Regions from separate parts of the Homo sapiens genome. Here region 2 is linked to region 1. A link means that fine-mapping ties the variant in region 1 to the expression of a gene that starts in the linked region. Tissue or cell type: esophagus muscle. Region 1 holds a variant in brackets; the other region holds the start of a gene. All regions are shown on one strand. Distances are from middle to middle.

Evidence for each region. PIP is the estimated chance that this variant, and not a neighbour inherited with it, causes the effect.
Region 2: it holds the start of MCPH1-DT, and the variant in region 1 is fine-mapped to the expression of MCPH1-DT in esophagus muscle (GTEx, PIP above 0.99).

Annotation. Positions count from the first base shown.
Region 1 is chr8:6,613,123-6,621,122 of GRCh38, reverse strand. All of the region lies in intron 12 of MCPH1 (microcephalin 1), which reads right to left. It overlaps MCPH1-AS1 (MCPH1 antisense RNA 1), which reads left to right. Exons shown (of 5, transcript NR_125386.1): 4 at 899-988; 5 at 1,921-5,520. Among named protein-coding and RNA genes, the nearest start is that of MIR8055, 5.1 kb to the left of the region's middle. RefSeq lists an enhancer at 4,547-5,048. The variant T/G (reference allele first, on the strand shown) is at 3,711.
Region 2 is chr8:6,402,870-6,411,000 of GRCh38, reverse strand. It overlaps MCPH1-DT (MCPH1 divergent transcript), which reads left to right and starts at 4,453. Exons shown (of 2, transcript NR_040040.1): 1 at 4,453-5,295; 2 at 5,881-7,445. MCPH1 (microcephalin 1) reads right to left here and starts at 4,374. Exons shown (of 14, transcript NM_024596.5): 1 at 4,312-4,374; 2 at 1,631-1,722. The coding sequence starts at 4,333. RefSeq lists silencers at 4,113-4,292, 4,553-4,632.

The sequences.
Region 1 (8,000 bases):
ACTAAAGTAACTTGGTGACGTGTGCAAGTGACGGCAAGATTCTAATGCACTGCAAATGCCGGCTGTGCTGGGAGAGCGTCATTCAATCCAGCGCGCTCCAGGCTGTTGGCAGAAAAGGACTTTTATAGGATGTAAGAAATGCTGTAAATCCAATACCATGGTCTGGACGGGGAAAGGGAGAGTGAGGCAATGCAAAAGTAGAATTCCTAGAGCCATTCCCGAAACACGCTGGGTTTGGGGGAGAGAGGTGTCTCGAGATTGTTTCAATGAGCTGTTGGGAAACATTTCAGAAGCAGGGATGTGAAGCTGCTCTGCTTCTCATTCTGGCAATGTGTGGTCATCTGTTTGACTCAGAGGACCGCGGGAAGGCCCAGTTATTCTGAACACGCATTTTCCTAACTACGGGTTGGTAAAGACTTCTTCAGTGTACACACCCTGCGAGATGCTATGGGTTATGTGCCATCCACGTTTTGTTTTGCGTATTTTCCCTGCTTATTTTTCCTACAATATCTGAAATTAATGGTTCACACAAATTAGAGATTTGAGGGGATGTATTTCGGGGAAGGGATGAAGGGACCTTCTCAGAGGAGTATAACCTGGGGTGGGGTGACGTCGGGGTCCTCTCAGTCAGGGGCAGCAGGCAAGGCTGACCTCGGAGGCAGGGGTAGGGTGCAGGTTGGGGGAAGAGCAGCAAAGAGTAAATTCCACAGCCCACATCACTCACAAAATCAGAGAAACAGTGAACTATTCTTCTGCTAGGTTTTCCTACTACTGTAATATTTAACAAAAGAGGATCCTACTGTGAAAATATAGCTCCAGCATCAATGGAGTAGATCCGATACACTTATATATGCTCATGGAATTTGCTTGTTCTCTCCCCTTGTGTTGAATTTTATAGCATAATAAATACCGAGCCTCAGCAGCTTTCATGTGCCTTGCAGGAGACAGTGGCAGCAGGGGCAAATGATTCTTCCTGGATGGTGACTTTGTGAGTATTTTTGGCACTATATCCTGCGAGATAGGCAGTGGAAAGGGCTACTGATTTAATTTGCAGACAAAGAGACTGAGCTGATGCAAGGCAAGAGATTTGCTTTGGCAAATGGTGAGTCACACTGCAAGAAAAAGCCATGGTCCCTAGCATCACGGGGCCAAGCTGCATGGAAATGGAATCAAGAAAGAGTATCTTTCATTTTAAAGTAGGACACACATACATTCAAAAAGTTAATTATGAAAGTATCTGGCCGGGCACGGTGGCTCACACCTGTAATCCCAGCACTTTGCGAGGCTGAGGCGGGCAGGTCACAAGGTCAGGAGATCAAGATCATCCTGGCTAACATGGTGAAACCCTGTCTCTACTAAAAATACAAAAGATTAGCCAGGCGTGGTGGTGGGCACCTGTAGTCCCAGCTACTCGGGAGGCTGAGGCAGGAGAATGGTGTGAACCCGGGAGGTGGAGCTTGCAGTGAGCTGAGATTGTGCCACTGCACTCCAGCCTGGGCAATAAGAGCAACACTCTATCTAAAGAAAAAAAAGGCTGGGCGCAGTGGCTCACGCCTGTAATCCCAGCACTTGGGGAGGCTGAGGTGAGTGGATCACTTGAGGTCAGGAGTTCGAGACCGGTCTGACCAACATGGAGAAACCCCATCTCTACTAAAAATACAAAAACTAGCCGAGCATTTTGGTAGGCGCCTGTAATCCCAGCTACTCGGGAGGCTGAGGCAGGAGAATCGCTTGAATCTGGGAGGTGGAGGTGGCAGTGAGCAGAGATGGCGCCACTGCGCTCCAGCCTGGGCGACACAGCAGGACTCTGTCTCAAACAATAAAATAAAGTATTTGATTGTTGAAGCAATACGGAAGGGTATAAAGTAAAAAGGGGCTTTTCCTGTTAGACACTGTTGTCTGTGTCTTCTTTATTGGCAGAACAAAGACTTCTTCTGGGGGGCACCGATCTCCACCTGGCCATGTCTTCAAGCCCAAGGAGAAGTCCCAGGATGGGTCTGAGCTAATCACGGTGATCGCAATACAAATGACTGCGCTAAGCATGGCACAGCTGGCCTCAATCCTGGCCAATGCAACGTGAGAATCAATTGCTGGTGGGATTCTGGGGGAGTTTTTCTCACTGTTATAAACAGATGCAAAGCAGAAATACTTCTCTTTGCTGGACACTGTCATGTCTAATGTGACGCCTGGATCACTGAAGCCCCCAGAGGCCACGGGACACGCTGAAAATGGCCCAGTGGGAAGGCGGAAAGCCTTGGGTCCTGAAAAACACTTCTAAGTCACTGACGGACCAAACTGAAATCATCCTTTATTTTGTTCTTTTCATGTCAGAAAAAAAGACCCCTAAATTCTTTAAGTGACTTTTTTGTTAAGTTTTTGTTTCTAGAAGCCCAAAATATCCTAATAATAATAATTTTAAATAATCCACCTATTTTTGGAAATAGCTTGTTCATCATTGAGATTATGAATAATAGATCAGTTCTCACCCCTGCCTTCCCCACCATTTACCAGAGTTAACAACTGTGAAAAATTCTCTGTGTATTTTTAAAAATCCTGTAAAATGCACACACAACACACACACACATTTATGATAATGCTTGTTCTTAACCAAAAACTGAGATCTAATCTCTATCTCACTATATGGATAAGCAGTAAATAAACCTTTTTGTAATGCAGTAGAAAAGGAAATCAACCTCTCGAATGTTTAGGATGTGACTTCAGTAGCTAGTTTCTTTGTGCTGTGACACTGCCTTCAGAATTCTGATCTTGGCCAATTTTCCTATCCAGCAAATAAAGCACCATTTCCCCCACACTGGTACATTTTAAAAAGTTAGCTGTGAATTCTAAGCTGCAAATATTAGATGCAGCAGGCGGTGTTCTCATTGTATCACCACTGGCTCTCGCCAAGGAGCCTGTGTGTTACCTGGAGATCAAGGCGAAAAGCCTCAAACGCACAAATTCTGAAGTCAACTTGCTGTTTATTATTTTCATGGATTTTTCAATACCCTTGGTAATCGCAATTTACAGCAATGTGCTCTAAACTCTAACTTCAGCTGGGCAAAGTGGCTAACACCTGTAATCCCAGCACTTTGGGAGGCTGAGGTAGTTGGATTGCTTAAGCCCAGGAGTTTGAGACCAGCCTGGGCAACATAGGCAGACCCCATCTAGATAGATAGAAAGATAGATAGATAGATAGATAGATAGATAGATAGATAGATAGATTAGATAGATAGATAGATAGATGGATGATAGACAGACAGACAGACAGACATAGATAAGCAAGCCCGGCATGGTGTCACATGCCTATAGTTTCCGCTACTTGGGAGGCTGAGGTGGGAGGATCACTTGAGCCCAGGAAGTTGAGGCTGCAGTGAACTGTGATTGTGACCCTTCACTCCAGCGTGGGTGACAGAGCGAGACCCTGTCTCAAAACAATACAACTCCCCACCCCCAACAAAAACCAATGATTCTAATTTCATTGCAAACCTTTACACACACACACACATGCACACACCCCAGAAACAGGAGTGCGTGCAGGACATGTGGAGGGGACAGACGTAAGTTGGGGAACGATGGCTCGGTGGCATCGTGTTGTTTTATTTTTGTTGTTACCTCAGTGAAAACCTCAGATATAACCAGGCTCATCTATTTATATATTGACCCAGAAGTTTCTAGCTAAAAAATGTTAAAAGATAATTTTTTAAAAATCA[T/G]AACTTTTGGGAAGCTGAGGCAGAAGAATGGTGTGAACCTGGGAGGAGGAGCTTGCAGTGAGCCGAGATTGCGCCACTGTACTCCAGCCTGGGCGACAGAACGAGATTCCACCTCAAAAAAAACAAAAAAAAAAACAAAAAAAACACCCCCCCCCCACCAAAAAACCCATAACTTTCATACAGGTATAAAATAAACAACAGTGTATTCATTTTACTTAACTCAAATGCTATAACTGGTTCAAAGGACAATCCGAAGAACACATTTAATGATTAGGAATACTGATATAAACTTGCTAATGGACAAAAAATATTGGCTTTCCTACAAGGTAGGAAGCATTCCCTCTACCAGACAGAATTCATTTCCTGCCCACAGACAAGCGCGTTTGCATTGCCAGCAGCTATTTACAACTTATGAAGCTGTAAAACAGCTCCCAAGCAATGAAGGCTGCAAGCAGATAAGGTGGCAGGCCGTGAGCAGGCCTCAAATGGAGTTTTACAGTGAAGCACAAATGTTCCCCTACAGAACCCAAGATGTCTCTTTAAAAGAAATCATGAAAGAAGAGGGGATTAAGTGGAGCTTATGGACTGCTCCAGGGTTAAGTGGCCTCCAAAATAAACAACAGGACTGCTCAGTAGTCAGAGTGAATTTTGGGTGGGGTTTGAAAGAGTTCCAGCTTTCCTCTGCTAATGGTGACATAAAATGTTCATTTCATACCCATGCATATACACTGATGTATACATGTAGTTGAGGAGGCAGTGGCAGAAGCCAGAAGGCTTTCTCTGCCATGAGCTCCTCCTAGGAGCCCTGGGTTGCAGAGGGTGAGGACTGCTAGGAAAGTCCGTCAGTTAAGGCCGAAGGGACATTAGCTTTGCCTTAAACCACATTGGCTGTGCTTGCCTTTGTGTCTTCACCTGATTTAATGGGTTTTAGCTCACACTCTCCGAATCTATTTACCTCCAAGTCAGTTAAGGCAGACTGTACTGTTGACAAAGCTAAGCAGAACAGAATTTCCCCATGGCTTCTAGCTTCAAGGAATCCCAGCTATTTATCCATCACCAAGAAATGAAGCCCCATGGGTGGCTGACGGTTCATTTACTCCAGCCCAGGGTGTTGGATTTCAATTAGTGCATTCGCTTTTCCCTCTAGGCAGAGCTCACCCTTTAAAGTCGCTCCTTGGCCTGCTAACTGTCTTAAGATGCACTTTCCCATCTCAACAATGATACAGGACGTGTCTTACAGGGCTGTAGTTCTCATTCACAGCATTCTTCCTCTGAGTGGTCCAGGAAATACTCGCAGGCCTTACAGTCAAGTCACCTTAGATTTAAAGTACGGAATACGCGAAACCTTCCTAACTGGTAAAGCGCTCAGTAATGCAAGCTCTGGGTGCAACTCAGTGGTTCTTAGTATAGTCAGAGTTATGCGATCATCAGCACAATCTACTCACACCCTCCTCGAGGTATTAAATAAATATTTCAGAATCCACAATGCAGCCAATCTCATCAATAACTTTACTGAATCCTGTAGCCCAGCACTCAGGGGTTCTCTAAAACCCTGCCCCGCCTTCCCCTCCAATTGCGGTGCCCACTGTCTCTTTTAAATAGACTCTGTCCTCATCAAGCCTGTTCTCTGTCCCCCAAATATGCCGTATCATTCCTTAATGCATGCATTTTTTCCCCAGTTCCCTACAATCTTATAATTAGTGGTTACGCTAATCTATATGTGTGTTTAAACTCATAGAATTGTATACAAAAAAGTCAACTGTACTGTGTACACACATTTAAAAGATAAAATGTGTTCTTTTAACGCTTACATTGGTCTACTTTCCATTTTTTCTTGGATCCTGGCAAGGCCTTCCTGTGCTTCCTAAGACATAAAATCCTCCTCCCAGCACCTGCCTCCTGCCCCCAACTCAGGGCTGAGCCACAGAATCAATGCACGCATCCCCACATCACCCCCTGCAGAAGTACCTGCACATTCGTTCGTTGTGTCGTTAAGTGAACTCATTTCATTGTGAGTATCAGGCTAAGTTCTGAGGATGCAAAAATGCAGGGACATGGTCTTTGCTTCTCAGGACACCCTAGAAGTTACACACATTTCATGGGCAGGAAAGTGGGAGCCTGAGTAGGCTTGGGGCATTGAGGGAGGACTTCCTGATGGTGGCATGTGACATGGAGTCGTGAGCAGAAAGACAGTTCCTCACGGAAAGCACACAGGAGCCCCTCAGGTCCTGAGACCTGGGTGTCTGAAGACTCACGGCATGTGTGAATGCAGCCCAGGGGATCGGCAGGCAATAATTGCAAGAGCTAACTTGCTAAAACATTCACATGCACGCCAAGTGATGAGGTGTGGACCAGACCGTTCGTGCTTACGCAGTGTGAGCGTGGTTACTGGGGACCTTAGAAACCTGAGCAGACAAGGCCATGGGGGGATCCGTGTGTTAGGAGGCTCACTATGCAGACAACGTGGAGGACAGATGGAGGGGTTGAGATCAGGAAGACCCAAGAAAAAGGGATGGAGTAGGGTGGGGTATGGGGTTGGGGAAGGGAGGGAGATTCAAGACAGAATGAAAAGTCAAACTCACCAGGAATCCAGTAATGTGACTGGCTTCCTGTGTGCAAATGGGGAGGTGAACACTAAGATACCACGGGGGCCACACAGGCATGTGTAAGAAAGCTCAGCTGTCGAGGTTTTGAGGTTTCCAATGAATAATCCATCTTTTTTGCCCCCAGCTTCAATAACAACTGAGAGGCAGATATAGGCATTGAACTACAGAGACAAGTCACGTTGATTATTCATAAGGCTGGCTGCAGATTGGGCGTTAGGCCAACGGACGTGTGTGTTTGCTAATGTCCTCTGATAACTTAGAAAGACCACCCACCAAGCCACATGGGCACTGGACAAAGGGCCTGCCTCCACGCAGGGAGGGACAAGAGGGGGCGAGAAATCAGGCTTTTTCCAGGAGGCAGTACGTAGTTGTGGTAAGATTTGATTAAGTTGGTCTTCCTCTGGAGGAGATGGGGGTGAGGGGAGGAGGCGCCAGCCTGGCAGCGGAAAGCTATAAAGGAGGCAGGCCCCTCACCACGCATGGGAGGAGGCAGGCATCTGAAACCTGGGGCACCTGACCGTCTTCCATCGTGAGTCCTGTCCGAGCGGCCAAGCTTTGGTGAAAGCCCTGGCTCTGCACAACCGTCTCCAAAACCATATCCTAGTGCTGATCATTGCAAAAGAGGTGAAGTCAGACCCAGAGGCCACCATTTGGAAAAACAAAACATTTTTAGGAGTCTAACCTTCTAAAATAATTCTCAGTGTAGAGTTACACGTGACAATGTGGCCTGCACTGAGCCCATCAAAGTCGGCATTAACTGGTCTTTGGCACCAGGGAGAAGTACAAACGATGTCTGCAGCCTGTGGACCTTAGAAAAACCAGAGAAATAGGAACGGAGCACACCATTAACTATTCTGGTGATCACTTCAATCCCATTAAAGTAAAAAAGGTCTTCAGATGGGGAAGTCATGGAGGCTCCTGAAACTCTGCATCAAGTCTTCTCCCTTGGCGATCAAAAGCATCCCTGCCCCTGGCTGCCACCTCAAAGCGTCCTGTTCCCTGGCCGTCCACAAGCCAGCTCCACACCCCGTGCTGCTAGACGGGGGTGCCCACTTCAACCTCGCTGTTACTGTCATTCCTCTCGGCCCTGATGACTCTGTCTCTATCTCCATCACTGATCCTGTCCCACTTCCTGGAAGTCTCAGGACATCCACAGGTGCCCCTTCCAACCCCCTCACCCCCCGGTCCCTTGGGCTCCTGTCTCCCCGGGGAACTGCAGAATCCCTTGCAGCTTCCTCCGTAGCTGCCACCTCCCACCTTGTCTGCAGCCCCAGGCCCCTGCCCAGCGGATGCGACTGACTCCCGCCTTCACCCCTCCATGTCCCAGCCCCTAAACCAGCACACAGCCCACCACCCCCCCGTGACTCCCTGGCCCTTCTCTCCACGTCAGACTGAGTCAAACCACAACCCGGGTTAAATTCAGATGCCGAGCTTCTCTGCACCGGCATCGCCGCGGGTGAATCTGGCTGGTGTGCCAGTCCCCTGACCGTTGGCCGTGTGGCCCTCCGTGTTTCTATCCACTGTTTCTACCCGGCTCGTCCTCCCCTCCTCTGCCTGGCCATTCCCGTCTGCCTGGCCTTCAGCCTATAAGCCCTTTCTCACGCTCAGCCGTGGCTCCCCACTGAGGACAGTGGAGTAACAGAGATGTCTCCTGCTTCCCGGCACCCGGCACCTGCTGCAGGCC
Region 2 (8,131 bases), 210 kb after region 1:
CTCCTGCCTCAGCCTCCCGAATCACTGAGACTACAGGTGTGTGCCACCACACCTGGCTTTTTTTTGTATTTTTAGTAGAGATGGGGTTTCACTATGTTGGCCAGGCTGGTCTCGAACTCCTGACCTCAGGTGATCCGCCTGCCTTGGCCTCCTAATAATGCCTGTTTTCTAAACATGCATTCCATGAATCCCAACTATGCTTGTGCAGATCATGTACTTCATTTTTCCCCACAGCTTAGATCACCCTACTTCCCTAACTGATAAATATCCCTAAGCCTTATCTTTGGGAATGAAGATGTGAGTACTCTTCTGCCTCCTAGCTGGGCTTCCCCGTGAATGAATCTTTTCCCTTTTGTAAAACCCGTCATCAAAGTGATCGGTTTAGTGTGCGTGGGCAAAAGATACCTATTTGGTATCAAGGACATTATTAAGTCAAATAGAGGCTACCTGAACACAAGCAGTACGTGATAGTAAATCTGATAACAGAGATGGCTATACTAAGAAACCTTGAATAAGGCAAATTGTTTGCTATCTCCATTTCCTCATAGCTCAATGATTCCTGCCCATTTCACTGAAAACTGCACTAAGTTCAGCAATGACCTTACAGTGTTCAAATCCAAAGTACATTTGCCCATCCTATTTTTCTTGAACTTTCTGTAGTTTTTAAAAATTCTATCTTTAAAATTACTCCATTCTAGTTCTGAAAGGCAATTAAAAAATTACTCCTGGCCGGGCTCGGTGGCTCATGCCTGTAATCCCAGCACTTTGGGAGGCCGAGGTGGGCGGATCACGAGATCAGGAGATTGAGACCATCCTGGCCAACATGGTGAAACCCCGTCTTTACTAAAAATACAAAAAAAAAAATTAGCTAGGCATGGTGGCATGTGCCTGTAGTCCCAGATACTTGGAAGGCTGAGGCAGGACAATCGCTTGAACCCAGAAGGCAGAGATTGCAGTGAGCTGAGATCGCGTCACTGCACTCCAGCCTAGCGACAGAGCGAGACTCCGTCTCAAAAAAAAAAAATTACTCCCTACTTTGACTTCCACACTTCCTTTCTCCTTCTCCTGGCATTCTTCTCTCCCTCTGTCACTGGGTCCCTGCTCCCATCGCCTGTCCTTGAATACTGAACAACGCTCCTCTGTCACCACTCTTCATCCTAACCATGCCTGACATGGGACGATGTCCACACCTGTGACTTCACATGACCCCTATGGTCCTGACCCCCTAGATCATCATCTCTAGCCTTGAACACTCCAAGCTCCAGACTTGTATATCCAAATATCTAACAGATATTTTTCAGTATGCCCAAATTTACAATTTTTCCCTTAGAAACCTGTTCCTTTTCCTGTATTCCTCACTTTGCTTAATAGCACTATGCATTCAAGTAACCAGTGTAAGAATCCAGCATTTCATCCTAGGTTCCTCCTCCTCACTCAATGCCCACAGGCATTGAGTTCTGAAAGTCCTACTGTTCTAAATTCTTCACACTTTGGCTCTTTTTTCTCCCACCGCTTACCCATTGCTTCGTCCAGATTCTAAGTAAAAACTCCCAAAATAAGAAAATGCAAATGTAACTTTTTACCAATCAGAAGACTGTCATATGAATCAACAGCAAAATAAGTGTCTTACCTTTGCCCCCATATCCACAAGCTGTGTTGTAAATGTCTTTGAATAATTTTCTGTTCCATTGGATGACCACACTTCAACATAGGCCACTACATCTGAAAACAAGATATGAACATGAAACATACATTTGAAATTCCAGCATCCCCTGCCCAATAGATTTTGTTCTATTTACATTTAAGAGTAAACCGAGGCCGGCACAGTGGCTCACGCCTGTAATCCCAGCACTGTGGGAGGCGGAAGTGGGTGGATCCACGAAGTCAGGGGTTTGAGACCAGCCGGGCCAACATGGTGAAAAACCATCTCTACTAAAAGATACAAAAAATTAGCCGAGCATGGTGGCGGGCACCTGTAATCCCAGCTACTGGGAGGCTGAGGCAGGAGAATCACTTGAACCCGGGAGGCAGAGGTTGCAGTGAGCCGAGATTGCGCCATTGCACTCCAGCCTGGGTGACAGGGCGAGACCCGTTTCAAAAAAAAAAAAAGAAAAAAGTAAAACAAAAATTTACTCTACTGGCCAGGTGTGGTGGCTCATGCTGTAATTGCAGCACTCTGGAAGGCCAAGGCAGTGGGATCACTTGGGCACAGAAGTTTGAGACCAGCCTGGGCAACATAGTGAAACCCTGTCTCTAAAAAAAATTTTGTTTTTAATTAGCCAGGAATGGTGGCGAGTGGCTGTAGTCCCAGCTACTGGGTGGGAAATGGGGGTGGGTAGGGTGGAGAAGCTGAGGTGGGAGAATCCCTAGAGCCCAGGAGGTAGAAGCTGAGTTATGATCGCACCATTGCACTCCAGCCTGGGCAGCAGAGAAAGACCTTGCCTCAAAAATAAGAAAAGTAAATGAAGTTTCTTCTACTGGCTGAACAAAGTAGCTCATGCCTGTAATCCCAGCATTTTGCAAGGTGGAGGCGGGAGGATTGCTTGAGGCTAGGAATTCAAGACCAGCCTAGGCAACATAGTGAGACCCTGGCTCTACAAAAAAATAATAAATTAAAAAATAAAAATAAAAATAACCGGGCGTGGTAGTGCCTGTAGTCCCAAGTTACTCAGGAGGCTGAAGCAGAATTGCTTGAGCTATTATGTGATCACATCACTGCGCTCCAGCCTGGGCAAGAGAGTAAGACTCTGTCTCATAAATAAATTTCTACTGAAAGCCTTTTCAAAATAGCTTCAGTGGAATTTATTAAAATTTTAAGCAAAGAACAACTGTACCCATACAATACATGAGAGTTTACATTTGTAAAATTAGTTGCTTTCCCCAAATTCTTACGCTTAATTTTTCCAGTGCAGAAACCTATTTTCTGTAAAGAGACAGATGGTAAATATTTCAGGCTTTGTGGCCAATACAGTATTTGCCACAACTACTCAACTTCACGGTTGTGGCACAAACATAACCATAGGTAATATATTAACGGGCCGGCCTGTGTTCCAATAAAACTTTATTTATGGAGAAGGAAATGTGAATGTGATATAATTTTTCATTTGACCTTTTTTTAAAATCACTTAAAAATGTAAAAGACATTCTTAGCTCGTAGACCCTTACAAAAACAGGCAGCAGGCTAGATATGGCCTGGGGGGCATAGTGAGTGGACCCCTGTTCTAGTGGATATCCTCTTCTCAAAACCTGATGTTTAAAAGCATTTTCCAGGTGTGCCGTTGGTCAATGATTGGGGGTAACGCTAAAAGAAAACCAGGTTAATTTAACAAAATACTAACATTAGAAAAATAGCCACATCTGATTACAGACTTTGTATAAAGCCTCTAGTCTTTACTTTTGGCTATGAGGTTTTATGACTCCAGGCCCCACAATACAGGCCCCTTTTTTCTCACGGTCAAACTCTACAAGACACGTGTCCGCTATTCCCCTCTCCTGGGCTCTTCCAGGTGCACAGAGGGTGGGACTGCGTGCGGTATCATATACTGGTTAGGACAGCAGCTCCGGTCTAAGGCCCTGTCAGCACTGACTAGCCACACACAGGGAGAGTCACCTAAACGTCCGATGCCTTAGTTTCTGCCTGTAAAATGATATAAGAGAGTTGATAGAGCGGTTAAAAAAATCAGACAATACCATACTAGCCTAAGCACAGCGCCTGGCACACAAAGACTCCGCAGTAAAAGGCGGCTCCTATTATTGGAACAATTAGCATAGAAACTCAACTGCCGCTCCTCCAGGTGGGCCTCAGAGGGGGTCGAACAGGACCAGACCCAGGAGGGCCCCACACCAACTTCCGGAGGGCAGGACTCTGCCTGCCAGTGAGCCCCAGATCCAGGGACTAAGGCAGCAGGGGTGAAAGCAGGTAGGGGGAAAGGCGGGATTTGGGGGACAGGCAGCATGGGGGAGGGAGCAGGCAGCGGGGGATTGAGGGGAACTAGCAGCACGGGGGTTGGGGCACAAGCAGTACGGGGGAGGAAGCAGGCAGTCGGGGGTTTGGGGGGACAGGGAGCACGGGAGACGAAGCAGGCAGCCGGGGGTTTTGGGGGGACAGGCAGCGGGGGAGAGAGCAGGAGCAGGGGGTTTTGGTGGGACAGGCAGCGGGGGAGGAAGGAGGCGGCAGGGGGTCTGGGGGAGACAGGCAGCGAGGGAGGGGCGAGCGGGGCTCCTCCCACGGGATCCCCCGAGTGCGCCCGCGACGAGGGGTGCCGGTCCTCAAACTCCCGCTGCTGGAGCAGGCAGCAGGAAGTACCTCACCTTTCAGGATGGGGGCCGCCATGACAGACGGCGGGATCCGGCCAGCTGGCCTACGCGGTGCTTGCGAGCCTGGCGGCGCGCGCGGGCACTGGGCATGCGCGGGGTGAGCGCGCCGCCGTCACCGCGCTCCGCTGAATCCGCGTTTCCGGGATTTCTCTGTAGGTGAGGCGGGAGGCTGGAGGGAGCTGAGCCCCCGGGGAGGGGGCCCGATTCCGCCTCGCCGCGCCTCTGGCTGCTGGGCCGTGGGTTTTTCTCTTCTCCTGGGAGTAAGGAGGACGACGGCCCCTAACCCCTGAATTAGCCTTCTATTTCCATTAGTGACTTAGAAGCTACCCGGCGCCTCATCTGGGCTCACCTGAGCTGAGGATCAGGAAGGGGAGGGGGCACAGTCATTCCCTCGCGGACGCGGCGGGACCCCAGCGGACGGCTTTGTGCGGACTTTCGGCACCGTTATGCCCCCCTAGCCCGACACCACCTGGGGCTGGCGCGCCACGTTACTGTTCAGGGCCAGACGCACCGCCCTGCCTGCTCCGGGGAGCCGGACCTCCGATCCCGGGGATGGGGGACCCCGAGACCTCAGACCCAACGGAGGGGACTCTGATACCTCAGACCCCACGCGGGGACCCCGAGGCTTCAGACCCCCACAGGGTGACCCCGAGATCTCAGACCCCCGCAGGAGTACCTCCAGACCTCAAATCCCCAGTAAGGGAATGAAAGAGACTTCGGATCCCTGAGGCAGCAAATCCCTGTAGGGGCATCCCAGGACTCAGGTCACCGCGGGGTGAACCCAGACCTCACATTCAGGCAATCCCCAGGACGCCGATCGGCTGGCACTACCCACTGTCCCGGCCACCCCCCCTGGAGCTCAAAGGCTTGGCCCTCCAGCTGCTCCACCCTGCCGGCAACCAGGCTCAAACCTGCAGCCCGCGGATCCCCTGCCCCGGAAGCAACCAGATTCGCGGGAGGTTACCTGACTGATCCAAGGTGATACAGCTGGTAACTGATGGAGATGTTGGTAGTGAAATTCATGTACTTTTAGTTCTTTCTATGGAATCTAGAGGTAGAATACATGTAAAAGAATATCGACTACCGTCTACTCAGGTCTCTGTTTTATCTGTTTATTCATTCACTCTCAGCTTTTAATAGGATCCAATGAGCCCTCTGTGGTTCTGAAGAATTGCCTTGAGTATATGCAGCCTCAAAAAACCCACTTCCTAGGCTCAGTCTTTGATCAATATTTATCATTATCACCAGTTATTGTTCTAATAAACTCTACTCTGGAAATATGGTGTTATGGTTTACTTGGGAGTGTGAGTTCAGGGCATCATTGAAGACTCACGTACTTTTACTGAGAAAGTGACATTGATCTCTGTAGATTTTGAATTAAATGATATGATGAAGTATATAAACCAATTACTTTTGGTCAAGGTGGTAAAAAAAGTTTAGTATTTGATAGATTCTTCATCTCCACGATCACAAATATTTTCTCCTAGGATTTCTTCTAGAAATATTACTGCTTTAGGTTGTATATCAGGTCTAGGTTCTACTTTTTTTTTTTTTTTTCTCCAGGCAGTTTCTCACTCCGTTGCCCAGGCTGGAATGCAGTGGTGTAATCACAGCTCACTGCAGCCTCAACCTACTGGACTCAAAGGATAAGATCTGCTTTTAATTAATTTTTGTATACGGTATGGGATAGGGACCAAAGTTCATTTTTTTGCATGTATACATATCCAAATGTTCCAGCATCATTTATTAAAAAGTTATTTTTGTCTCTACTGCATTTCCTTTGTGCTTACATCAAAATCTGTGTTGCATATGTATGTGTTTCATTTTAGGCTTCCTATTGTGTTCCATTGAGCTATTTGTCTTTTTGCTGCCAGCACCATGCTGTTTTGATTATTGTAGCTATATAAATAAGTGATGAAATCAGATAGTTTATGTCCTACAACTTTATTTTTCAAGGTTATTTTGTATCTTCTAGATTCTTCAGATTTCCTTTTAAATCTTAGAGTCGACTTCTCATTTTGCACAAAAAAATACTGCTGGGATTTTGATTGAGATTGTGTTGACTCTACAGATGAATTTGGGGAGAATTGACATTTTAACCATATTGAATCTTCTGACCCATTAACATTTAGGTCTTTTAAAATTTCTCTGGCCAGACGCAGTGGCTCACGCCTGCCACTTTGGGAGGCCAAGGCGGGCCGATCACAAGGTCAGGAGATTGAGACCATCCTGGCTAACACAGTGAAACCCCATCTCTACTAAAAATACAAAAAATTAGCCGGGCGTGGTGGCATGCGCCTGTAGCCCCAGCTACTTGGAAGGCTGAGGCAGGAGAATGGCATGAACCCGGGAGACAGAGCTTGCAGTGAGCAGAGATCTTGCCACTGCACTCCACCTGGGGCAACAGAGCGAGACTCCATCTCAAAAAAAAAAAATATAACTGTTGTTAGATTTTAACCTAAGTATTTGTTTTTTTATTTTGTTTTTCTTTTTTTCTTCTTTTTTTTTTTTTTTTTTTTTTGAGACAGGATCTCACTCTGTCTCCCAGGCTGAAGTGCAATGGTGTGATCATGGCTCATCTTGAAGCCTCGACCCTCCTGGGATCAAGCTATCCTCCCACCTCAACCTCCTGAGTAGCTGGGACTACAAGTACACATGACCATGCCCAATTCATTTTTTAAATTCTTTGTAGAGGCGGAGTCCCACTATGTTGCCCAGGCTGGTCTTGAACTCCTGGGCTCAAGCAATCCTCCCACCTCAGCTTCCCAAAGTGTAGGGATTACAGGCATGAGCCACTGTGCAAGGTCTTGTGTTTTTTGATAATATCGTAAATGGTGATTTTTTCATTTGTTTCTGATTGTTGCTAATATATGGAAATATAGTTGATATCTGCAATTGATCTCATGTCCTGAAAACTTGCTAAATCTGCTTAATAATTTTTTGTACATTCAAAATGATGTTCTACAGGTAGTCGTATTGTCTATGTTGGAAGGAAAGCTTTTCCTCATTCAATGTCGGTCCTGTGTTTGAAGACCTGCAAATTAACTGATAACAACAGGTTAACAGGAGAAAAGACAAGGTTTAGAGTAACTCACTAAATAGAAATAAAGGTTTATAGATCCACTTAACAAAATGTGTTGGGAGATTTTGGAGTTTCAGTAGGAAGTTGTGGAAGGTTCTTTTGGGCTTTTGGATGCTTATGAGAATGGGCAATCTGTCTCTACAGTAGTGGAATTTACAGGAAACTTCCTCAGAGGGAGGCCAATGGCAGCTGTATTTTCTGGGGGCTCTGCTTTAGTGAAATAAGGGAAGTTCAAATAAAATTTCTTGATGCGTCTTTCTTAGATCAAATATTTTCACAGTAAAATAATCTTTATACCAACTTTTAGGGCCTGAATGGTCCACACATTTCTCCATCTGAAACTTCCCTAGAAATTTCATTAACAAAAAAAAGAAGCTAAGTTGATTGCTGTGGGGAGATGATTTGAGTTAGAAATTGTAAGATGAGAGATCTGTAAAAGGGGGAAAAACATAGATTAGAACAAGGAAACAAAAACAATGATTAATGTTCAGAGCAGACGATAAACCCAGTCTAGAGGGTAAGCCAGTTATGAAATTTTCTAGATGTTGGGCTCCAGCTATCTTTAGTGAGGATGGTAGTGGTAGGTAGTGTTGCCATCATGGTTATTTCCTAGAGCACAGTCTGGAAGATGCAGGTGTTCTGGGGAAATATTTGAAAGACCCACGTGTTGTGATAAGTCTTTTGAAGTTTCTGTCTAGCCATCCAGCTTCAGCTTGCAAGGCTTTGAGAAGG